4 linked regions of the Homo sapiens genome follow. The protein of the gene in region 2 interacts with the protein of the main gene of each other region in a pairwise test. Each region holds a gene or a part of one and is shown on either strand. Other genes may lie near its edges.

Region 1 (7,481 bases), on a different chromosome or scaffold from region 2:
AAAATACAAAAATTATCTGTGTGTGGTGGTGCACACCTGTAGTCCCGGCTACTCGGGAGCCTGAGGCAGAAGAATCGCTTGAACCCGGAAGGTGGAGGTTGCAGTGAGCCAAGATTGTGCCACTGCACTCCAGCCTGGCGACAGAGCGAGACTCCATCTCAAAAAAAAAAAGAAAGAAAGAGAGAGAGAGAGAGAGACAGAAGAAAGAAAGAAAGAAAGAAAGAAAGAAAGAAAGAAAGAAAGAAAGAAAGAAAGAAAGAAAGTGATTCAGTTACAAAGAGGCCATTAGAGTTGGTCTTCATCTAATCTGACTGTTTAATTTACAAGAAAAGGAAATATGGACACACAAAGAGACCCAAGGATGCACACAGATAGAAGAAAGATACAGCAAGAAGGCAGCCGTCTGCAAGCCAAGGAGAGGCCTCCAAAGAAACCTATCCTGCTGACACCATGATCTTCTACCTCCAGCCTCCAGAACTGTGACGAAATCAACTTCTATTGTTGAAGCCATGCTGTCTGTGGTACTTTGTAATGGCAGGCCAAGCTGACTATCAGGCCGTTGGAGCTGGGGAGGACCAGGTGCCTGAAGGAAAGTGTCAGGATGAAAGTGGACGGAAGGCCAAAGCTTTCCAAGCCTAGGTTATTCGTAGAACCATAAATGGGTGACTTAGCCACAGTTCCCAGGAGGCGTGTCTATTCACGGGGGACTGGAGGGCAGTGCCCTGAGTCTAAGGTTCCCTTTGATTCTTAAATTTCCACAGCACATTTCCGGAAGCCAGCCTTTCACATTCCCATCTCATTTTACGCCCACCCACCCACCAGTTGTTGGGGGTCACAGTGGGTGGGTGGTCTGATGTCTGACTTGGACTCCAGATCTCGTCCGGGTATAAACTGCAGGCTGAGAATTCTTGGGAAGCCTCCAAGGCAGGACCACTATCTGTGCTCTTCCTTATCAAAGTGGAGTCATTTATATTTTAATGAGATTATTTCCCAACACAACAGTTTATCTTTCATTTCATTTATCCCTTTGCCATCTGGTCCCCTTATGTTTGCATGTAGGGCTAGTGGCTTTCTTTGTCTAAGTAGATTTGTCAATAGTTTATAAATTTTCTTCTCATGATCATAATATTTATTTTTCACATTAGACAGACTCTTCTGGAGTCTTGGAAGAAAGAGATTTCTTTTTTTTTAATTTTAATGTCATTCTTTAACCTGTAATTTTTGTTTCTGGGAAATGTGTTTTCAAAAAGTAATTAATTAATTAAAATGAATGAGCAAAAGTTTCCAGACCAATATATTTTCTGGTTCTATTTGCTACTGGATAACCCTAACAAATATTTTACTTAAGGGACTAAATCAAGCTCGCCTAATAGCAAATGGTACAGATGCAATGAAAGTGGCCTAGCTTCCCTCTAAACTGAAATCCAAATCTGGGCAAATTCTATGTTCTGGAGATATTTATTTTTATCTGTTTTCAGTCTCTTGCTGTAAAGTTCTTATCTTAAAGCTACTTAGCTCCTCTTTTTTTGGCCCCCTCCCAATTACTCTTGGCCTTCTTAATTACTAATCCATCTCTTTCATCAGCAAAGTTGATGGACTCTATTTACCATCCGATTATCTTAAGTTTTTTCCTCCAAGACAGGGCTTTGGCATTCCAGTCCTATTCTAATGGCTGATGGCACTACATACCTCTCAGGTGCCTGGTGGGAAGGCCAGCCATGCCCATTGGCCTTGCCTTCTCTTGACCCAAAAAGCTCCATTAGGCCAGAAAATAGCTCTGGCCTATTCCTCAACATATCCCCAGCACCAGCCCCTGCCTAGTACACACTGAGTGTTCAATAAATAAATGAATGAACTGCCTTGTTTTCTAACACACCAACACATGCAATAATATAAACAGAGACTGAAACATGCTTTATAGGTGAAATACAACAAAAGATTGATGTTCAGACCTTTCTGAGAAAAAGTGATTAAAAAATCAGCAATATCTTTTATTCATATGCTTCGTAGTTTCTAAGGGGCTTTGAATCTCCTGTGAGATTTATATCAACAACCCCATTTTAAGGACAAAGGAAGCCTCACAAGAATTTTGTGAGATTTAAATAAATCATGTATGTAAAATCCTTACCACAAAGACTGACATGTAGTAAGAACTTTGGAAACAGTTGATGGTCTATCCTTTTTCTCTATCGAGAGTTTAAAGAACTAGTACATGATGGATTCCGATCCAGAAGTCAGGTTTCATGTTTCCTAGCCTGTTACACTTCCTGCCATACCTCAGTATTCCCCCAACACTGTTCTCAGGCTCTGATAGGAATATCTTTAGGGCAGCAGTCAAGACACCCTAAGCAGACCAGTGACACTTTTCTGTCCCCATCTTAAAGGGGTGGAGGAGAGCATCGTACCCCCATGATTAAAGAGACTGACATTAAACAGCTGGACTATGGAGTGTGGGAACCATGTAAGTTTAGGGGCTAGATACCCTGCAGTGATCACTTGAAGGTTCTTGTGCTGGTTACCTGCCAGCAACTCTTATACCCCGCCCTCCCAAAAAATGGGCCAGGTGCAATGCCTCATGCCTATAGTCCCAGCACTTTGAGAGGCCGAGGCAGGAGGATCACTTGAGGCCAGGAGTTCGAGACCAGCCTAGGCAACATATTTTTCTCTACAAAAAAATTAAAACTCAGCTGGGCATGGTGGCACGCCTGTAGTCCCAGCTACTCAGGAGGCTGGGAGGATCACTTGAATCAGGGAGGTGGAGGCTGTAGTGAGCTGTGATTGTGCCACTGTACTCTAGCCTGGGCAACAGAGTAAGACCCTGTCTCAAACAAACAAGCAAAAAATGAAGTGAGGCTTTTAAAACCTGGGAACTGAAGCAGAAAGCCATGCATCACTAGAATACAGTGATACCGTTCAAGCTTCTCTTCCATATAATAAATGCATCACTGAGTTGCCATTAGACTGCTATGCCAATGATGAATGATAACACTGTGTCCCCTGTGGGCGAGGGGAACCTGAATCCATGCATCATTTTGAGATGTGGCTTGAGGTTTTGGTCTGGCATGCCCTTTCTCTGGATATTTGAGAAAGGCAGAAATCATTTAAATAGCATCTCATTTTCCAAAGCCCATCTTCTAAAAGTCATGCTGATTTCACCCTTTCTTCCCTGGCCTTTTCCTTAGTACCATCTTCCTGAGGATACAACTGGCCCACTCATCAGCCTTCTAGGTAAGTGGCACAGGCTCCAGCTACCTTAAGTGGACTACCTGGCTTCCCTGCTCACTGATAGGGTGTCCTGGGACCAGGCACTCGAACTCGGTAGGGTTTAGTTTCCTTGACGGTAAAATAGAAAAGTAAGCCTGTTTCACAGCACTTCCCTGAGGATCAAATGAGGCACAGTTTGAATTGTTCCCACACAGAGTAAATAAAGGCAGGTTCCCTCCTGGCTGCAAGATAAAAAATGGGCAGGGGAATCTCCCTTGAAGAACTGGCACGCTCCTTTCTTTCAGCTAATGCCCACCAATATGTCCATTGCTGTTTGGGGTGCAAGAAATTTTAGGCTCAGTAAGGACAATTCCTCCCAATGGTTTGGATAGGGCTGTCAGAACTAAATTCAAGTTGTTCGAAGTCTCCTTCCGCCCGCCCTGCCAACTTGCCTCCCTCTTCACCCTCCTAATAGGAGGTGAGCCCCTCCAATAGCGATCATTAACTCACCCTAAGGTTATCCCCTTGCTGCAACAACCCGTGAATTGCAGGTTCATTCAATGCTCTTTAAATTATTTTTAAAGGCTTTTTTTTTTTTAAGTAGCAAAAGAATGCATGACACCTATTGTAAACTGGCAAGTTGAGGGGGTGGGATGCCGCTCAGACGTGTACTGAGAAAGGTGATAATGAATTTGGCGTCAGCAATTCTTCAGAAACTATAAGAAAACACCCAGGTGTTCGAATTGGTCCCAAAAGGGAAACAAATCCTTCCCAGCTTTCACGATGCGCTGAGGTTGGTTTTCTCAGTGCTCCTCCCAGATCAGGAGGTGGGGAACCTCGTGGCAAGCCCTGGGGCTCGGGATTCCCGGACTGTGGGCCTGGGGGAGAGAGGCGGCTCTCGTGTGCACACTTACCCCGCCCCCACAACACACACGCGGTCACGCACCACAGACGGGCACACGCGCTCAGCACAGCCACAGTCGCGTGCAACCAGGAGTGCACACCGCACCCACATCACACCGCATGCACAGACGCACGGGTGTGAGACCACACACCTCGGCCACTCACGCTCACACGCCCCCCACGCGCTCGCACACGCGCTCGCACGCGCACTCCCCGCGCACCGCCGCGCGCACACGCGGGTCCCGCCGGACGGCGAGGGGCGGGGCGGGCGCGGGCGCAGGCGCGGGTGCCCAGCCGGGCGCGGTCGGGAGAGGGCGCGGCGCGGGGTTCGCGGCTGGCGCTTGAGTTGTTTGCCGGCTCCCGGGCCGCCAGACGCTCGGAGGGAGCCCGGCCGGCTCGGACTGGGCGGCCGGGAGGGAGGGCGCCCCGGGTCACGACGGCGCCCGCAAGCCGAGCGCGGCCGGGACGTGCACCATGGACCCAAAGGCGGGCGGCGGCGGCGAGGAGGACGACTGCGTGGACTCGGGCGCCGAGACCGGAGGGTGAGCCGCGCCGGGCCGGGCCGCGGGCGGGGGGCGCTCTCCGAGTTGCGCGGCGGCTCCTCCCCGGACGGGGACCCTCCTGATCCGTGCGACGGGACCGGGGCGCGGGGCTTCTCCTCCTGCCGGATCCCCCGCTCTCTCCTGGGCGGGCCGCGCTGCCCTGGGCAGGGCGGGCACCACCCGGGGGGAGGAAAGTGGAAGGACTCAAGGTTCAGTGCAAGCCCACCCATCCTGTGAGGCGATGCAGAGCGCCAGGCGGATGCAAAGACCCCTTGTCTGCATCGCTAGAGACAGGAGATGCTCTTGCACTTGTTTCCTCCTTCCTCGGGGACTTTCCTCCTGTAGCTCCGGAGCCCCCTGGAGTCCGGCCCTGGAGATCGGGAGAGGAAGAAAAGCAGGGTGGGACACCCGCACCTAAAAGTCTTTCCGAAGTCGGCTAGGAGGATGGCATTTCTCGTTATATGGCTTCATCGTGGGACTTTAATCTGTGCTGCCGAGTCCCCCTCCCCGACTCCTCCAGTCCCGCCGAACTTCCTCACCTCTAAGTGCACCTGTCCCAGCTGGACCCTTTGGCCTGTTGTACCGGCGGGATGGAGATGGTGTTGGGATTAGGATCTAGCCCTGCCTTTTTTTTTTTTTAATATTCTCTTCGCTTCAGCGGACTCAAACAATGGGCTCAAACCTTTGGAGACTAATTAGTTAGTCTCCAAACACTGTTTTCCTGAGCGGAAGAAAAGACAAAATGCCTTTTAGGAGATGAATGTCGTTATAAAGGCTTCCAGGCAGCCTCTGTCTCTAAAGGACTTTCCTGTGCAGAGTCAGCACCACATCCAGGCCGCGGGTACTGACCCAGGAGGAAAGGGTGTTTTTTCCTATCTGGAGTAATCCTGGGGGAGGGCGGGAGCTGCCTAGACTACAGAAAGCCTCATTCCTGGAAGGTCGGAGAGGTTTTAGACTAATCTCAGGATTTGGCAACCCTGTGAGGGCAGGTAGAGAATCCAGGCCCACGATCGACCCAGAGTTCTAACCCAACCCCGGCAAAGCTCCCCACAGGGCCCCTCCTGCCCCACCACTCCTAGCCCAAATGCGGGACTTTACTCCCTAGGGCATTCACCCAGCAATGGGCTTTCTCTGTTATCCAAACTTATTCATAGCTCTCTACAGCACCCAATTATAATCTGGTGGAGTAACCTGATGCTAAATGCCAAACTTCCTTTCTTCTTCCCACTCTTTGTGTAAGTGGCATTTATCAACTTTAACAAGATTATTGGCTTTTTTTTTCTGCCATTAGTTAGCTGGACCATGAATAGAAGAAACAAAGCAAAATTAACCAGCTTATTTGTAACTGCGTTAAATAAAGCATTCACTAGTCTATTCATTTTCAATTTGCAGAACTCACCTAAAACTGATATTTTTTTCAAGGGCTCTGTCTTAGAGAAGGGAGAGGAAGTCCTGGACCCAGGGGGTGACATCGCCCCAGGATCTGGACATCAGCATGACAGCGGCCAGGCCTCCTGGGAGGGGCTCCCCACTCCTGCTGACACCAGAGCTTCTGTTCTCAGCCTCTGTCACTAAAATGTGTAGTTGTAACAGGACAGAATTGTTTAAAGAATTCTTGGCCAGGTGCGGTAGCTCGCGCCTATAATCCCAGCACTTTGGGTGGCCGAGGTGGGCGGATCACCTGAGGTCGGGAGTTTGAGACCAGCCTGGCCAACATGGAGAAACCTCATCCCTACTAAAAAATATACAGAATTAGCCAGGTGTGGTGGCGCATGCCTGTAATCCCAGCTACTCGGGAGGCTGAGGCAGGAGAATCGCTTGAACCCGGGAGGCGGAGGTTGCCATGAGCTGAGATCACGCCATTGCACTCCAGCATGGGCAACAAGAGCAAAACTCCATCTCCAAAAAAAAAGGAATTCTTACTGTATCACTAGTATCCTTAAGCTAAAGGTAAAATAGCATGCATTTCAATGTATGCTAATTAGTTTTGTGTTTGCCATATATTCACAGAGCCCTTGAATTTCAGTTATCAAAAAGCTGTTCATCGTTTCCCTGCTTTTCCAGAGCTTGCCCCCACCCCTTACCCTATCCAGCTTTCACAGAGATTATGTAGAAAGCACATAGAAGACAACAAGTGTTTGCTATCGTTAGTATTTTTAAAATGCAAATCTGATCATGTCTCTCCCTTTCAAACTTTTATGGCTCTGTTATCTACAAATGCAAGGAATTTAACGTGGCCTATATGCCCTGACTCCTGTTATGGAGTCCCTTCTTCCCTCCCTGGCCTTGTTTCTCAGCAGGTCCTTCTTTGCGCCTTGTATTTTTCTGTTTCCTCGCCTTTGTCAAGCTGCCCTCTTTGCCAGCTCTGCCCTTCCCACCTGACTTGCCTGTCTGCCAGGTGAAACTCTACTCTTCTTTCAGGACTCAGCTCAAGTGACACATCTGCTAAGGCAGTGATCCTTAATTTGGGGTCCATGAATTCCTTCAAGTTGTATGCAAAATGATGTGCTTTGTGAATTTGTATGAGAAGAGAACTTTTTTTTTTTATCAGATTCTCAAAGTAGCTGGTGATCTATTCCAAACCAAGTTTGGGCAAGATATGAGACATTTCATTTTCAACACACTGTGTCTGAGGTGTTGCAAGACATCCAAGTAAAGATGATGAATCAGCAGTTGGGTATATCTGTCTGGAACTCAGAAGGGAGGTCTTCATGATGACATTGCATTTGGGTACTATTTACCTAAAAATGGCAATGGAAGCTCTGGGAGAGACTAAATCAACTGAAGGTAATAGCAAGCACTTTCTTAGCATTTAGTATGTGCCACCTACTG
Region 2 (7,175 bases):
CCAGCACTTTGGGAGGCCAAGGTAGGCAGATCCCTTGAGGCCAGGAGTTTGAGACCAGCCTGGCCAACATGATGAAACCCCGTCTCTACCAAAAATACAAAGAAATTAGCTGGGCGTGGTGGCACACACCGGTAATCCCAGCTACTCAGGAGGCTGAGGTGGGAGGATCGCTTGAACCTGGGAAGTGGAGGTTGCAGTGAGCCAAGATCGCACCACTGCACTCCAGCCTGGGTGACAGAGCGAGACTCTGTCTCTAAATAAATAAATAAGAGTGTGTTGATCTTGATGGAGCTTATGTTGAAAAATAACATTTTTTAAAAGTATAGAAAGAAAAATAAGAAATGAAAATAGGACATTTTCAGACCAGAAAAAGACTGTTGCAGTGGTCAAGATGTGTAATAGAGAAGGTTGGCTGGACATAGTAGCAAAAGGTTAAAATGGAGCTCATGGAAACATGCATGAAATCATTTCACAATAAAAAATGAACTGAGGATGCCTGTGTGCCAGGCTCTGTTCTAGGCCCCAGAGGATACAGGTAAATAAAATAGGCCAGGTCTATGCCCTCCTGGAGCTTACATGGTAGGGAGACAGATAATAACCAAAAATAATTAAAAGATAATAATAGCTAGGATTTATGCCGAGTTATATGAGTCAGGCACTATTCTAAGCACTTTACAGATATTGATTGGTTCCTCCTACAAAACAGCTTAATGAACTAGGTGCTACTATTATCTCCAAGCTACAGAAAACCGGGACACAGAGCAGTTGAATTTCCTATTCAAGGTTAAGCAACTAATCCTAGTTCAGCAACTCCAGGATTTGCATGGCAGTGGCATAGCCTAACTCCAGGGCCTACACACTTAACCACCAAACCAGTAAGGCCCAGACTTACATCATGATAAGAATTACCTGGGGCACTTTTGAGATATTTGCAGATTACCAAGTCTTACCCCAGAAAATTCTGATGCAGTAAGCATAGCTTGGAACCCAAGAACTCATTCTTTAGTGAGCCTTCCAGATGATGCTTCTCTTCAGGCAAATGTGAGATATATTGCTCTCAACAAAAGGAATCGTGACAATAAAAGTTAGAATGGTGACCTCTGCAAGATTGGATAGTAGGAATAGTATTATTTTATTTATTTATAGTTTTTTGAGACAGTCTCGCTCCATCACCCAGGCTGGAGTGCAGTGGCTCCATCTCAGCTCATTGCAACCTCCGCCTCCTGGGTTCAAACAATTTTCCTGCTTCAGCCTCTGGAGTATCTGGGATTACAGGTGTGCGCCACCAAGCCTGGCTAATTTTTGTACTGAAGAAAATGGGGTTTCACTATATTGGCCAGGCTGGTCTAGAACTCCTGACCTCAGGTGATCCGCCCACCTCGGCCTCCCAAAGTGCTGGGATTACAGACATGAACCACCTTGCCTGGCCAGAATAGTATTATTGGCTGGGAAGGTGCATGAGGGAGCCGACCAGGGCTGGAAATGTGTGTCTTGGAAGGGGACTTCCCAGGTGTGCACATATGTAAACATTCATCAAGCAATAAAAAATAAATATTGCCGTAAGCTGCGGTGCTCTGCTGGGTCATGTTAGCTAGACAGGTATCATGAAGGTGATGTCGCAGAGTCGCAGGGAGAGTGAATACTTTAGGTAAGACATAGGAAAGGTCTCTCTGGGAAGGCGACATTTCATTTGATGCTGGATGACCTAAAATAGCCAGTCCTGCAAAGACCAGGAAAGCAATCCAGGCAGAGGGAGGAGCAACAACAGCAAGGAGCCTGGTGGAGCTGCCTGGGCAATGCAGGGTGAGAGTGGTGTGATCTGCAGTGGGACTGGCAGGCCACAGCCAGTTACATCTAGCTCATTCCTGCCCCAGGGTTTTTGCTCCCACCAGTTCCTCAGGCTGGAATTGCTCCCCCCTCATCCTCACATGGCTGCATCCTCCCCGGCTCCTTGTTCAGATATTACCTGCTCGGAAAGGCCTGCTATGACCAGTTCTACAGCCACTATTACAGCCCCATTTTATGGTCTTTGGAGCCCTTATCACTAGCAAAATGTTGAGAACACATGGACACAGGAGGGGAACATCACACACCAGGGCCTGTCAGGGGGTGGGGGGCAACGGGAGGGAGAGCATTAGGACAAATGCCTAATGCATGTGGGGCTTAAAACCTAGGTGATGGGTTGATAGGTGCAGCAAACCACCATGGCACATGTATACTTATGTAACAAACCTGCACGTTCTGCACATGTATCCCAGAACTTAAGGTTAAAAAAAAAAAAGGAAGTTTTATATATATTTTTTATATATATAAATATATAATATATAATATATAATATTTTATATATAATATATATTGTATATATTTATATATAATATATATATACATAAATATAAATATATATTAAATATATTAAATATTATATATTAAATATATATATATTTACAGTACTGATTTGATTATTTCATGTTGACTGCCTCCCTGGTCTACCTCCAGCAGCTAGCCCAGTGCCTGGCACTTCACAAACACTTGAGAATAAACAGCTGCTGCAGGCAGAAACCAAGCCTTAGAGGCAGCAGCAGGGAAAATCCCATTCATTATACAAGCCATATTTACTAAGCCTACTATGTGTCAGGCACCAGCCAAGTCACTGGACTACATCAGTGAAGCAAAGAGATTTTTTTAATCCCCATTTTTACAGGGACTTACTGAAAATAAGGGGGAGGAGAACACAGATAATATACAACTAAATTATATCTAAGCAGATATACTCGAGATACATAATATGTTCCATCTAACACCTTTTAAGGACAAAGCAGGCCAGGCATGGTGGCTTACACCTGTAACCCCAGCACTTTGGGAGGCTGATGGAGGATCGCTTGAGGCCAGGAATTCGAGACCAGCCTGGGCAACATCTCTACAAAAATAAAAATTAAAAAGTGAGCCAGGGTGGTGGCCCACGCCTGTAGGGGGGATTGCTTGAGCCCAGGAGTTGGAGGCTGCAATGAGCTAGGATCCGACCACTCTTCCAGCCTGAGAGACAGAGAAAGACCCCCTCTCTAAAAAAAGAAAGGGAGAAAGAGAGAGAGGCAGAGAGAGAGAAAGAAAGAAAAGAAAAGAAAAGAAAAGAAAAGAAAAGAAAAGAAAAGAAAAGAAAAGAAAAGAAAAGAAAAAGAAAAAGAAAAAAACAGGAAGGAGACAGGGAGTGGTTGGGGGAGGAGGAGGGGGCTGCAATATTAGAATGATTAGATTAGGCCAAGCATGGCCTCCCTGAGTGTGAATTTGAATGCTGACCTTCAGAAGCAGGACAGACTCTATGGGCAAATCCCTCGAGGCTGGGAGAGGTCTGAGGCTTGGGAGGGTCGGCAGAGAGACAATAGGGCTGACGCAGGAGCCCGGGGGAGACAGTAGTAGTAAGACATGAGGGACAGAGCAGAGAGGTCACTGTCCTCAGAGTGTGGACGCCGACCAACACTAGGGGCATCACCTGGGAACTTAGAAATGCTCGTTCTCACGCCTCGCCCCAGACCTACTGAAGCAGAAACGCTAGGGTGGGCCCAACAGCGTGTGTTCTAACAAGCCTTTCAGGCGACTGCGATGCACGATAAAGTTGGCAGCTCCTGGAGCAGGGGTCCCTCCGCGCTACGACCCCACCTCTTCGCGGTCCTCTCAGTCTCCCTAGCGGGGCAAGGGACCCGCCCAGCGCTTTGCTGATTTGCCCAGCGCTCACGCCCAACCTGGGTTTCTCCGGAGCTCGCCGCGCCCCGCGCACCCACCCCGCAACGGCAGCCGCACGTGGGTCTCCCCGCAAACCACCCAGGCGTCCCGGGAGCAGCGCTGCTGCACGGCCGCGCTGGGGGCCCAACGCCTGGGGTTGCAGGTGCAAAAGGCGCCCCGAGCCGGGGAGGCCAATCGCGTCCGCGGAGAACGCAGAGTGCGGGCAGGGGCGCATCCCTCGCCACCCGCGGTCGCCCAGCACGCCGGGACGCGCGTGGCCATCCAGCTCCCCGGGGGCGTTGGGGGGCTCCGCGGGCCTGGGCCTCGGGATTCGCCCGCCGCTTCCCCGGGGAGCCGCTGCTGCAAAGCCAGGTTGGGGCGCCGGGCCCGGCCAGCGCCCTCTAGGCAGCGGAAGTGCAGCTTGCTTTACATCCGTCCTCCCCGCCTCGCAGAGTTGGGAGAAGGCAGGGTGGGGGGTGTGGAAAAATAAAAGGAAAAGTCCTTGCACCATGTAGATCAGCGTCCCCCACTTTGGCATCCCGGCCGGCCGGGGACCTCCCAGTCTGCGGCCATGAACGCGAGCAGCGAGGGCGAGAGCTTCGCGGGCTCGGTGCAAAGTAAGTGCTTTTCCGGGAGCAGTGCGCGCTCCGGGGCCCAGTGCGCGCTCCGGGGCCCGGGCCCAAGCACGTCTGCGACGCAGCCAGCAGGCCCGGGGCCCCGAAATCGGGGTGACGGCTCGGAGCCGCGTCTCGGGGACCGCGGCGGGCGCGCTGTGCAGGGGGCGCCGGAGTGGGCTTGGGGTGGGGGCGCACCCGACCTGGCGCAAGACCGGGGGCGCTCTCCAGCCTTGCGAGACCCCTTGGAAGGGAACAGTGGGGGAGGGCACGCCGTTCAGACAATCGCCACCCCCTAAGGGCATTCCCGCCCCATCAGGCGGAGTTTGGGGCGGGCAGGAGAAAGGGAGGAATCTAGGGTAAACGGGGCAACACTGATGGGAAAACTTCTGCCTCAGTGGCTCAAAATTAGAGCCTGGAGATTGGGGGAATCACCAGGTCTCACGAGGTCCTGCCGGCTCATTGCAAAGCCTTTTCCTCATTAAGGGTGGAGATCTGAATGGAAAACGGGGCCGTGGTCGCTTTATTTGGGTTTGGGGTTCAGTTTTTATTTAACCGAGGAGGACATCAGCGTTTTTCAAGTCCCTGGTTTCTCCCGGTGCATTGTTTCCCAAAGTGTGGTCCAGAGACTGAGTGCAACCAGCCACCTGGGAGCGAGAGCGTGTATTTTAAAACAGCTTTCTGGGCCCCACCCATTCAATCTCGGGGGTGGGGCTGGGGATCCGCTGTCCTTCGTAGCTGCCTGGGCAACTCTGAAGCACATGAAGTTTGAGAACCCATCTACCAGGGGTTTGCAGAAAATCTGGCACATAGTAAGCTCCCAGCTTGTTAGCTGCTACTGTTAACAGTTTGGGAGACACTGGGTCCCAAACTTGGCGGTGTATTCCTTGCATTACTGTGAAAAGCACAGATTTTCCTAAACACCATCCTCCCCACCCCACCCTGTTATGACTCAGTATCTCCTAGGTGGGGCTCAGATATGTCCATGTTTAAATAGTGTACCTCAGTAAGAACCCAGCAGGTAACATGCTGGGGGACTGGCGGGGAGGGGGGACTGTGCTGGTACGAGCACCATCCCATTTAATTCTCATAACAAGCCCGTGTTTTTTCTTGGAGAAATTAAAAACAAACAAAAACCATGGATTAGAAACCTCTCCTCCCATTTTTCAGATGAGAAAACCCACGCTTAAAGTCACTGTTGTTAAGCGACAGTGTCAAGATTCTAACGAAGGTCTATGTCGTTACTTTTGCACTTTCCACATACCAGTGACATTATCTGTTATGAAAATCCTTTCATTCTGGGTGTCAGTCCTATTCCATCATTAAGGAATCGTCAGCAATGCAAGCTACTTCATGTCTCACTTCCTTGTTTCCTTGTTAGTTCCATGGGTATCTCAGTATCTGCCAGAGAAGAAAAGGTTTCCTTCCTTCCATCCATTGATTGCAAAGTGCTTAAGTGTATCCCTGCAAGATGGCTTATCACAGTGCTCAGCCCAGTCTCCTTAGCAAGTCAACCAAACTGTATTTCTGAACAGAGATTTCTTGTCTTAGCTAGACCTGGGGAAAATTGGACATAATGTAAATATCTTACAAATTTTCAGAAAATTATGAGGCATAATTTTATCTAACCATATATGCACAAAGGTAGTCTTGTATCATTTAACTTGGGAAAAATTGGAAATTATGTAAATACCTTATTGTTGCTGAGAAGATTATGACGCATGGACACCATGGAATAATGTATTGCCATTAAATAATCATATATATATGAAGAGATTTTAATGATATAGCACAATGTTTATGCAATGTTTAGGAAAAAGGGCCAGGCACGGTGGCTCACGCCTGTAATCCTAGCACTTTGGGAGGCTGAGGCGGGCGGATCACATGAGGTCGGGAGTTCAAGACCAGCCTGACCAACATGAAGAAACCCCATTTCTACTAAAAATTCAAAATTAGCCTGGCGTGGTGGTGGCGCTTGTAATCCCAGATACTCCGGAGGCTGAGGCAGGAGAATCGCTTGAACCTAGGAGGCGGAGGTTGCAGTGAGCTGAGATCGTGCCCTTGCACTCCAGCCTGGGCAACAAGAGCAAAACTCCATCTCAAAAAAAAAAAGGAAAAAAATTAGGAAAAGGATTAGTTTTACAATACTATGATCTGAATATTTACAATATTATGATCTTATGCAATTTTTTTTTTTTTTGAGATGAAGTCTCGCTGTCACCAGGCTGGAAGTTCAGTGGCATGATCTTGGCTCACTGCAACCTCCACGTCCCAGGTTCAAGCAATTCTCCTGCCTCAGCCTTCTGAGTAGCTGGGATTACTGGCACGTGCCACCACACCCAGCTAATTTTTGTATTTTTAGTAGAGACGGGGTTTCACCATGTTCGCCAGGATAGTCTTGATCTCTTGTTGTGATCCACCCATCTCGGCTTCCCAAAGTGCTGGGTTACAGGCGTGAGCCATCTTACGCAACTTTTAAGTGTAAAGAAAATGAATGGAAAAAAATATTTTATAATATTCATGGTAGGCAGAGATGGAAATATTGAGTGATTTTCCCCTTCTTTATAAGTTTCTTCTAAATTTTCTTATAAACACGAGTTATCTTTTTTTTTTTATGTGAGACGGAGTCTCGCTCTGTCGCCCAGGCTGGAGTGCAGTGGCACAATCTCAGCTCACTGCAACCTGCGCCTTCCGGGTTCAAGCAATTCTCTTGCCTCAGCCTCTCTAGTAGCTGGGATTACAGGTGTGTGCCACCACGCCGGGCTAATTTTTTTTGTTTATTTTTAGTAGAGATGGGGTTTCACCATGTTAGCCAGGATGGTCTCGCTCTCCTGACCTCATGAT
Region 3 (3,733 bases), on a different chromosome or scaffold from region 2:
AAGGGTTGACGTAAAGGTTGTAACATTTAAGCATTTAAGATGTATAATTTTGGGCCGGGCGCGGTGGCTCACGCCTGTAATCCCAGCACTTTGGGAGGCCAAGGCAGGCGGATCATGAGGTCAGGAGATTGAGACCATCCTGGCTAACATGGTGAAAACCCATCTCTACTAAAAATACAAAAAATTAGCTAGGCGTGGTGGCGGGCGCCTGTAGTCACAGCTACTTGGGAGGCTGAGGCAGGAGAATGGCGTGAACCTGGGAGGCGGAACTTGCAGTGAGCCGAGATCACGCCACTGCACTCTAGCCTGGGCGACAGAGTGAGACTGTATCAAAAAAAAAAAAATTAAATATATAATTTTTTTTTTTGTCACCTAGGCTTGAGTGCAGTGGTGCGATCTTGGCTCACTGCAACCTCCGCCTCCCGGGTTCAAGCAATTCTCCTGCCCCAGTCCCCCAAGTAGCTGGGAATACAGGCGTGTACCACCACGCCCAACTAGTTTTTGTATTTTTAGTAGAGACGGGGTTTCTCCATGTTGGCCAGGCTGGTCTTGAACTCCTGACCTTAGGCGATGTGCCCACCTCAGTATCCCAAAGTGCTGGGATTACAGGCGTGAGCTACTATGCCCGGCCAAGATGTATAGACTTTTTGACATTCGGTGCTGGGAAGACATTCCAGGTGGAGACCAGCAGGAGTGGAGGCAGAAAGCATCAGCTGTGAAGGGAAGCGGCAAAGAGAACTGAAAAGGTGGATTAAGGCTGTATAATATTTGGCCTTGATTACTACACAGAGGAGTTGTATTCATTTATTTATTTATTTATTTATTTTTGAGATGGAATCTCGCTCTGTCACCCAGGCTGGAGTGCAGTGGTGCGATCTCAGCTCACTGCAACCTCCACCTCCTGAGTTCAAGTGATTCTCCTGCCTTGGCCTCCTGTGTAGCTGAGATTACAGGTGCGCGCCACCAGGCCTAGTGTTTTTTGTATTTTTAGTAGAGACAGAGTTTCACCATGTTGGTCAGGTGGGTCTTGAACTCGTGACCTCGTGATCCGCCCGCCTTGGCCTCCCAAAGTGCTGGGATTACGGGCGTGAGCCACTGCGCCCAGCCTAGGTGTTGTATTCATTTAATAGACAACCATTGAAGTTTTTGAGCAAGGCAAAGATTATAATGAGTTACAGTCTAGAAACATCAGTGCCATGACAGTATGTGAGACTGATAGTAGAGGAAAACTAATAACCCAGGTGGTAAGAGTTTGTAAGATGTGGCAACTGATTGAATGCACACAGAGGTTACTCAGTTTTGAATCTAGGTAATCGAAGAGTACGCTGGTCCTACTAACAGAAAAGTTAAAGAGAAGAGGTTGATATGGAAAGGTTAGGTATTAATAAATGGTTTTCACTTTAGACGTGCATTTCAAGTCCCAATAAAATATCCAACTTATGATATATGAAAGCCAGTAAAAAATCCAGGATTGCAGATTTGAGAGGCCTATGCAGAGTTGAAGTCACATGAGTAAACAAACACATTGAGTGCAGAGAATAAGCCAACCTTCAAGACACGTCTACACTCAAGGAGAAAATTAGGCATAGTTGCATGCACCTGTAGTCCCAGCCACTCAGGAGGCTGAGGTGAGAGCATCGTTTGATCCTGGGAGGTCAAGGCTTCAGTGAGCAGTAGTGACCCCACTGCACTCCAGCCTGGACATCAGGACATCAGAATGAGACGCTGTCTCAGGGAAAAAAAAAAAAAAAAAGGAGAAATACAACAAAGGAAAAAGAATATCATCTCGGCCGGGCGCAGTGGTTCACACCTGTAATCCCAGCACTTTGGGAGGCCAAGGTGGGCAGATCGCAAGGTCGGGATATCGAGACCATCTGGGCTAACACGGTGAAACTCCGTCTCTATTAAAAATACAAAAAATTAGCCGAGTGTGGTGGCATGCACCTGTAGCCTCAGCTACTCGGGAGGCTGAGGCAGGAGAACTGCTTGAACCTGGGAGACGGAGGTTGCAGTGAGCCAAGATCGCGGCAGTGCACTCCAGCCTGGGCAACAGAGCGAGAGTCCGTCTCAGAAAAAAAAAAAAGAATGTCATCTCTTCAACTAGATGTAAGCTCTTGAAGAAAGGCTCAATACCCTCTGCTTTCTCTGTATCCCTTATTGTAGAGTTTAATAAATTTGTGGTTTGAATATATAGGAAATAAAGCCACAAGATTGATAAGATTTTTTTTATACAGGATGAGGATGAAGAAGTATACAAGAGAGATTTCAGCGCTCCTACCCTGGAGGATCATTTCAATAAAACCATTCTTCCTAAAGTCATGCAGGTATGGGGAACCTTAATAACATGACAGAGAAAAGTGATGTATTGATAGCTGAGGCATGGTTTGTTTGGTGGTATAACTCATCATCCATCCTTCCCTCAGGTCAAGAACTTTGGACGCTCAGGTCGCACCAAATACACTCACCTTGTGGATCAAGATACCACCTCCTTTGACTCAGCTTGGGGCCAAGAGAGTGCCCAGAACACAAAGTTCTTCAAACAAAAGGCAGCTGGGGTACGAGATGTATTTGAGCGGCCATCTGCCAAGAAGCGGAAAACTACCTAGGGTCCAACTGCTTATTCTTCCAACTGTGGAACACAAGGGGAGTCTCAGCATCTGGTCCTTGATTTGGTTTTTTCATTGTTTCCTTGGCCCCTGTATCCAGATATTGGACTTACTGCTATACTTGTGATACTGGGTAGCCCAGACTTTGAAGGTGCTTTGTGAGGTTTGGACTCATGCTGAGAAACCCACAGGAAAGCACTGTCCAGGTAGGATTAGAGGCTTCCCACTTAAAACTATTTCTGAGAAATCTTAGGTTTTATCACTGCTATGGTTTCCCATATTTACTTGGGACTGTTCTGACTTTCTTTTTCCAGCCCTTAGCTTGGGTTAGAAAAGTGGACATGTAAGTGAACAATGCATTACTTCTACCTTAGGTTTAGGAGTAATATACCCGGAAATCTAAGCTCATGGAAACATGTTTTCCATTTTTGCTTGGAGTCCGTTTTTCTAGTTGTACATACTTTTTGATCCATATATGTGTGCATGTCAAGAAATAAAAGAATCACACAACAAGGAGATTTTTAGCATGATACTGGAAATAAAATGTCCAAGCTGACAAGTATTAATTGCCTATTAAAGTAAAAGATAACAATTGTCAGGCAGAAGGTGTTTCACATTTTGATAATTCCCTTTGATCTCAGAAACAAGCTCAGGTACTAGCTTGGCTTTAGGTAGCATCTGGATTTATTCCATGACCAAATACAGATGTTTTTGAGAAGACCAAGGTCTTCTCACATCCTTTAAATGTCCCACTGGAAGAATCAAATAGTTTAGTGTCGTACGATAAAAATGAATGCAAATAATTACTATGAGGTGGTAAATACATAAAGATGAACACAGGTACAAGTCACTGTTGTGTGGGATACAATCTAAGAATTATCCTAGAGTCAGAATGAGGGTAAGGCCTTGAAACTCTTGGAGAAATGTCTGTAATTGCCATTTGAGTGTCCTTACAGCAGACTCAGGGGCCGTTGCAGGGTTTTTTTTTTGTTTGTTTGTTTGTTTTAAAGAGACGGCTCTGTTGCCCAGGCTAGAGTGCCTCAGCCTCCCGAGTAGCTGGGACTACAGGCGCCTGCCACCATGCCTGGCTAATTTTTGTATTTTTAGTAGAGACGGGGTTTCACCAT
Region 4 (7,034 bases), on a different chromosome or scaffold from region 2:
TATATTACAATTACTTGTGTGCATGGCTTTTGTTTCCTCTGCCAGACTAGAGATTTCTGGATGGCAGGGTCTGTATTCTTTGTATTCCCACAGTGCCTTGTAAACAAGTATGTAAGGCTGGGCATGGTGGCTCATGCCTATAATCCCAGCACTTTGGGAGGCCGAGGCAGGTGGATCACTTGAGGTCAGGAGTTCGAGACCAGCCTGGCCAATATGGTGAAACCCCATCTCTACTAAAAATACAAAAATTAGCCAAGTATGGTGGTGTGTGCGCACCTGTAATCCCAACTACTCGGGAGGCTGAGGCAGAAGAATTGCTTGAACCCAGGAAGCGGAGGTTGCAATGAGCCAAGATTATGCCACTGCACTCCAGCCTGGGCAACAGAGCGAGACTCTATCTCAAAAAGAAAAAAAAGGCTGGGCGCGGTGGCTCATGCCTGTAATCCCAGCACTTTGGGAGGCCGAGGCAGATGGATCACGAGGTCAGGAGATTGAGACCATCCTGGCTACCACGGTGAAACTCCATCTCACTAAAAATACAAAAAAATGAGCTGGGCGTGGTGGGCGCCTGTAGTCCCAGCTACTTGGGAGGCTGAGGCAGGAGAATGGCGTGAACCCAGGAGTCAGAGCTTGCAGGGAGCCGAGATCGCGCCACTGCACTCCAGCCTGGGGGACAGAGCGAGACTCCGTCTCCCAAAAAACAAAAAAGTATGTTAATAAAATCTATTGAGTGAACACTTCTGAAAAATTCTATGAGCAAAGGTAAGGTTCCGGAAGAGCAAAAGGCAGACAAAGCAGCATGACTGGAGCAGTAGGAGCAGAGTCTGGGTGGGGCAGTGGCCGACGCCAGGCTAGAAAGGCAGATGGCAACCACGTAGCAGCAGCATTTGTCTCTAGCCTTGCAAAATGTGGAGCTGCTGAAGATCATCAGGCAAGGGGTCTTAGGTAACATGCTCCAGTGAGTGGCATGCAGGATGCAGAAAAATGGAAGAGCGGAAGGAGGCACATCAGTTAAGGGCTCACTGCCGACCTTGATGTGGAAATCCACGGGAAGCGTCCTGGAGCCCACCAGCCGTTTCATGAGGTAGCCCTTCCAGTCGGTGAACTTGGCATGGATGGCTGTGGAGGCACCAGCAGAATCCTGGTTACACAGACTGACAAACCTCCACTGACAGGGGCGCTAGCGCCGACCCAGAGTGGGGACCCCTCAGCAGTGGGGACTGAAAATAGCTGCCTCTTCAGGCCAGCAATGACTTCATCTGAGAACATCAGATTCCACACGTGGATCTGCCCCCAGGCCTCTGGGATGGGGAGGGCAGGAAGCCAGGGGGCAAGTGGATTCTGTTCTAACAAGACAGAGGACTCCCATTCTACCTAACACAAGCAGAGGACTCTCCCTCTACCAGGGGCCCTACGGGAACAAGAGAGGAAATGTTCTCATCAACTCACTCCGTGGGGGCACTAGGATCTTGCTGTTGATGGCACACCAGCCAATGGGGTGGACATCCACTGTTCCCAGGTTGCACCAGAAGTCATGGCTGGCGTCATTTTCAAAGCCTTCATACCGAAGCAGCACCCGATACCCTGAAAGGAAAGGAAAGGGCACCTGTGAGGGAGGGTGAGCTGGGGAAGGTATGTTCTGTTTTTTTTTTTTTTTTCTGAGACGAAGTCTTGCTCTGTCGCCCAGGCTGGAGTGCAGTGGCGCCATCTCAGCTCACTGCAAGCTCCACCTCCAGAGTAGCTGGAACTACAGGCGCCTGCCACCACGCCCGGCTGATTTTTTTTTGTATTTTAAATAGAGACGGGGTTTCACCGTGTTAGCCAGGATGGTCTCGATCTCCCGACCTCGTGATCTGCCCTCCTCGGCCTCCCAAAGTGCTGGGATTACAGGCGTGAGCCACCGGGCCTAGCTTGGGGAAGGTATGTTCTTAAGCCTTCTCTTTTCTCTAGCCTAAGCTGGACTTCTGGCACCTATACTTCCAGGCAAGTGGATTCCTGTTGTCCACAACAGTCCTAGCCAAACAAATTCATGCTCCTAGTTCGGAAAGCATTATGGAATGGTGCTGAGAGTTAATTCTCTATAACCTGATCATCCTTGGAATGAATTTTACTTTTTAAATTTTTTCATTTTTTATAGAGACAGTATCTCACTATATTGCCCCGTCTGGTCTCGAACTCCTGAGCTCAAACAATCCTCCTGCCTCTGCCTCCAAAGTGCTGGGATTAGAGGTGTGAGCCACGAAACCTGGCCCTGGAACAAACTTTAAAAATTGGGGTTTCCAGCCAGGCACGGTGGCTCACGCCTATAATCCCAGCACTTTGGGATGCAGAGGATCACCTGAGGTCAGGAGTTTGAGACCAGCCTGGCCAAGATAGTGAAACCCCGTCTCTACTAAAAATACAAACATTAGCCGTGTGTGGTGGCCAGGTGGCCTGTAGTCCCAGCTATTCGGGAGGCTGAGGCAGGAGAATCGCTTGAACCCAGGAGGTGGAGGTTGCAGTGAGCCGAGATCGTGCCACCGTACTCCAGCCTGGGTGACAGAGCAAGACACCATCTAAAAAAAACAAAATAACAAAAACAAACAAAAAAATTTGGGGTTTCCAAGCCTGCCAAGCTCTGTGTTCCCTTCTCCGGTAAAAGAATCCTTAGAAGTGGGGCAAAAATTCCAGTGGGTGGGATTTTTGTTTTATGAAGCCAACTCCTGCCTACAACACTGTTCACCCATCTAGAGATGTCACTCTGCAGACACATCCCTGGCCCTGCCCTGGCCAAACACTCACCTGCTGTCTGGATGACAGAGGCGATCCAGTACACCCGGCTGGGGAGCACAGCATCACTGTTGAGCACCTCCACCTTCATCCCTTTCATCACATCCTCCCACTGGTCATAGAGTGGGACCTGTGTGGCGATGAGAGTGTACCGAGAGAGTGAGCTAACTGTGCTAGCAGGGGAGACAGACTGCCTCACGGCCTCAGTCAAGTCCTCGTTTGCACCTCAACTTTTCACATCACCCACTGTGTGCAGAACCAGCTACTAGAGATAAAGAGATGAGGTCTCCTGTCCTTGAAGAGCTAAGCCGGGAGTAGAGGTGGAGGTGGTGGGATGCAGGGTGATGGCTAGAGACCCAGAGTCAGACAGAACCGAGTCCTAAAATCTTTATAGGACTGGTTTCTTACTGTATCATTTTGGGCACATGATGCCTTGGTGAGCCTCGATCCCTTCGTCCCTGTGCCAGCCCGAGCAATGGCAGGGCGCTGATATTAGCACAAATATACTTTCCTTCAATCATCATACAAACCTGGGCTGTGGGCATTATGACCCCCTTGTTTACACACAGCCATCCACCTGCAAGTTTACTCTCTACCTCCCCTCCTACTGAAATGCTCCAGGGGGCCAGGCATGGTGGCTCACGCCTGTAATCCCAGCACTTTGGGAGGCCGAGACGGGCGGATCACCTGAGGCTGGGAGTTCGAGACCAGCCTGACCAACATGGAGAATCCATGTCTCTACTAAAAATACAAAATTAGCCGGGCGTGGTGGTGGCACATGCCTGTAATCCCAGCTACTCCGGAGGCTGAGGCAGGAGAATCGCTTGAACCTGGGAGGGGGAGGCTGCTGTGAGCTGAGATAGTGCCATTGCACTCCAGCTCTGGGCAACAAGAGTGAAACTCCCATATCGAAAAAATAAATAAAATAAAATAAAGTGCCCCAGGACAGCACTGGACTGTTTCAGTTGCCTTCCCAGTACCTAATCCTCACTTTCCTGCCAATGGTACTTTTGATTCTCCTTTGGGAGAATCACTTTTTTTAGAGTCTTGCTCCGTCACCCAGGCTGGAGTGCAGTGGCGCAATCTCAGCTCATTACAACCTCCGCCTCTCAGGTTCAAGGGATTCTCCTGTCTCGGCCTCCCAAGTAGCTGGGATTACAGGTGCCTGCCACCACTTCCAGCTAATTTTTGTATTTTTAGTAGAGATGGGGTTTCACCATGTTGGCCAGGCTGGTCTCGAACTCCTCACCTCAGGTGATCCACCCGCCTCGGCCTCCCAAAGTGCTGGGATTATAGGGGTAAGCCACTGCGCCTGGCCAAATTCACCTTTTTTATTCTCAGCCCTGGCTTCAGCCAGTTGAGGTATCCCATTCCATCTCCCTGGTCACTTGAGTTTAGTTCATCACAGAACCCGGACACAGTTGCGCTAGCCCAGGCACGCAGGGGCAGGCTTTTTACAAAGCAAATTGGATTATATGTGTTAGACACAAGGATGATGCAACTCCCTGGAAATGAAAATGCTGAAACTATTAGAGAATTCAGGGCAAAAAAGAGGCTCCCCCTCCAGCAGGAAGGAGGTGCACCTTCATTAGCCATTCAGAGACGAGAGGAGTGAGTTAGCTGAGTCAAGAAGCAGCTGTCATTGTTCAGGGCACTCCCCAGAGTTCAGTGGCAGTTCTGAAAGGAGGAGAGGAAGTGGCTTACTCTGGGTAAAAGACTCCCTACTTCCTCAAGACTAAAGAGGCCTCCTCCTGGATTTCCCGGAGCTTAGGGACGTGGTGTGAAGACAAAACAAGAGTGCTGTTGTGGGCTCTGCTCTCCCGGCCTGCAGGCTCCACACGTCACAGCTGCTGGATATTCGGTTCTTGCGCTCAAGCCCCGCCCCTAAGGGCCTTGCCCTTCGTTCTGGCTTTTACATGATCCGCATCGAGGAGCCTTTTACAGAAGTGGCTCCAGGAGCATCCACATCTGCCTCTCGGGGCCCACGGGGCCCAGGCCAGCTACAGAAGCACCCTGCTTTCCATGGGAAAATGCTGCAAATGGGGGAGAAAGGAGAGAAGGGTTTCAGACTGCAAAGACCCTTCGACATCAGCTAGCACCAAGTTCCATCATGTAAATAAACTGAAGGGCTTCAGACCGGGAGTGAAGCCAAGCAGGTGATAGAAGTGTTTGTAGGAGGATTTTTTTGACATAAACATGAAATGGAGCGAGTGGTAACGCCATCCGTCTCCTGCCCAGACCTCCCCACTGTCACTGTCCAGCCTGAAGCCGCCCTGGTGAAGCAGGTGGAGGAGCAGCTCCAGGCCCGGCTCCCCGGCCTCCCTCCCTCAGCTCCAGGGCACTCACGTGCTTGAAACAGCTGACGGGAGCAGCCTTGTAACTGTGATCCTTCAGGAACTTCCCCCAGTCGAAGCCCAAGACCAGAGCTGCAGAGCAGAGAGGACGAGTCAGACTAGGAGCCTGCGCAGCAGCCACTCCAGGAGCCTGGACCCCAAGGGCCCTGTGGGACCTGCAGAGGTAGGTCCCCCACCCCCAGCAGCCCCTCTCACAGCGCTGCCCACGACACCCTCCTTCACTCCCATACCTGATCCACCAGTGGCCATGAGGGACCACTGTTGAGGACTGAATTGAAAGGTGGCAAGACTCTCAGGAGTAGAGGAACATTCAAAGGGAAATTTCTCGCCCTTCTTCCCCCAAAGGGGAAAACTGAAATATCCCTGGGCTTAAATTCCTCCCTCCGCCCTGAACCTGATTGGCCACACCCAATCTAAATGTGGGGGAGGGGGTGCGCACACACCAGGGCCCCTCCAACTGAGCTCCGGCCTGCTGAGCTCAATTTCAGTTAGAAACTCAGAACAATGATAGCAGAGTTGCTTTATGCATACATTTAACTTGCTTAGCAATTGCTACACACTCAGAGAGAGGCTCCTTTCCTTATCCCACCACCCCTCTCCAAACCTGCCTTCAAACCATATCTGGGCCTTCGTTGCCCCAGGGAAACAGAAACCAAAAGGATAAAAGCAAAGAGAAACAAAAACAGCCAATTCTTGGCTTTTGAATTATCATGGGTAGGAGTCCTGATAATTTAAGGGTGTTTGAAGGCATTTTTCTGGGTAATTTCCACAATACCCAACAGGTGAGGAAGATGCAATCCGCAGTGACCCTGACTTAGGGCACTTTCTACCTGGCCGGTTTGCCCAGTCTTCATTCCTAGGAAAGGCCACCCCAAACCCAGTCTCCTCCCCAGCCACGGCAGCTTCCTAAGCAGGGCCCTCTGCTATCTTACCGTCTTGTCCTGTTGGTGTCCCATCTGCCAGCTGTCCTGTCCCTTGAGAGTGGAGGAAGGCTCCAATTTTGGCAGACCAGGCAGCCTTGTGCAGGACTTTGGCTTTTTTGGTCGGTGGTTTTCCCTGGAGAGGAGGACAGAGGCTATGTGTAGCCTGGCGGCTGGGATCATGAGTCTGGATTTGGGCCGCCAAGTTGAAGTCCTGGGCTTGGGCCAGTGACTTAACCTCTTTTGGGCTTCAGTTTCTTCATGTGTGAAACAGTGATGACAATAACAATCCTGAGCTCAGGGGGTGGTTGTGGGGAAGCGTCGGGGGTGCTAGGGGGTGCTAGGCAGTGCTGCAGAGCAGGGAGAGACCCATGTTCTATCTTTTAAGCCTTTCTGTCCTCCCAGATTCAAGTCTCAGTCATCTCCTTCCTCCAGTGTCGCTACTGATAGATCCAAAGCAAAGAATGGGCCTCACAGGGGCCCAGAAACGCTCATGAACTGGGAGGCAACCTTCTGTACATACGCGAATGTTTGGGAGAGGGTCCACATAGGCGAATGTTCGGGAGAGGGTCCACATAGGCGAATGTTCGGGAGAGGGTCCACATAGGCGAATGTTCGGGAGAGGGTCCACATAGGCGAATGTTTGGGAGAGGACCCACAGCTTTCATTAGGTACTCAAAGGGGGTCCTCCCTTTCCAAAGGGAATGGCCACTGATCTGGTCTGTATTTTGTAACTTAAGTACTGAACAGGAAGGCCAGGAATTTACTAAAGAGATCAGTGAAGCAGAAATCTGGGTTTAAGTCCCAAACAAACCTACAGGGCAAATCCCAGTTCTACAGTTTTTAGTTGTATACCTTTAAGTAAGTTACTAAAATTTCTGAGCCTTTATAAAAAGGAATTTTTTTAAAAATCAAATTTTTTAAGATCGTTAATTGGACTGAGAATGTCAAGCCCTTAGCAAGTACTCCCAAACCATAGCTATTAATATTA

What was found.
Region 1: the proteins of ZFP64 (region 2) and FAM124A interact in binary tests that used the Homo sapiens proteins (3 or more experiments, as listed by UniProt).
Region 3: the proteins of ZFP64 (region 2) and MFAP1 interact in binary tests that used the Homo sapiens proteins (3 or more experiments, as listed by UniProt).
Region 4: the proteins of ZFP64 (region 2) and L3MBTL2 interact in binary tests that used the Homo sapiens proteins (3 or more experiments, as listed by UniProt).

The regions. Positions count from the first base shown.
Region 1 is NC_000013.11:51,217,921-51,225,401, forward strand, and holds the start of FAM124A (protein FAM124A), read left to right. Parts: upstream 1-4,477; 5' UTR 4,478-4,581; coding exon 4,582-4,649; intron 4,650-7,481.
Region 2 is NC_000020.11:52,188,750-52,195,924, reverse strand, and holds the start of ZFP64 (zinc finger protein 64), read left to right. Parts: upstream 1-4,145; 5' UTR 4,146-4,288; coding exon 4,289-4,334; intron 4,335-7,175. UniProt on the Homo sapiens protein: May be involved in the regulation of mesenchymal cell differentiation through transactivation of NOTCH1 target genes.
Region 3 is NC_000015.10:43,803,967-43,807,699, reverse strand, and holds the end of MFAP1 (microfibrillar-associated protein 1), read left to right. Parts: intron 1-2,234; coding exon 2,235-2,324; intron 2,325-2,423; coding exon 2,424-2,606; 3' UTR 2,607-3,208; downstream 3,209-3,733. UniProt on the Homo sapiens protein: Involved in pre-mRNA splicing as a component of the spliceosome.
Region 4 is NC_000022.11:41,215,284-41,222,317, reverse strand, and holds part of L3MBTL2 (lethal(3)malignant brain tumor-like protein 2), read right to left. Parts: intron 6,180-7,034; coding exon 6,056-6,179; intron 5,287-6,055; exon of another isoform or gene 5,196-5,286; coding exon 5,116-5,195; exon of another isoform or gene 4,474-5,115; intron 4,460-4,473; exon of another isoform or gene 4,366-4,459; coding exon of another isoform or gene 4,096-4,365; intron 2,900-4,095; coding exon 2,782-2,899; intron 1,585-2,781; coding exon 1,450-1,584; intron 1,120-1,449; coding exon 1,031-1,119; intron 1-1,030. UniProt on the Homo sapiens protein: Putative Polycomb group (PcG) protein. PcG proteins maintain the transcriptionally repressive state of genes, probably via a modification of chromatin, rendering it heritably changed in its expressibility.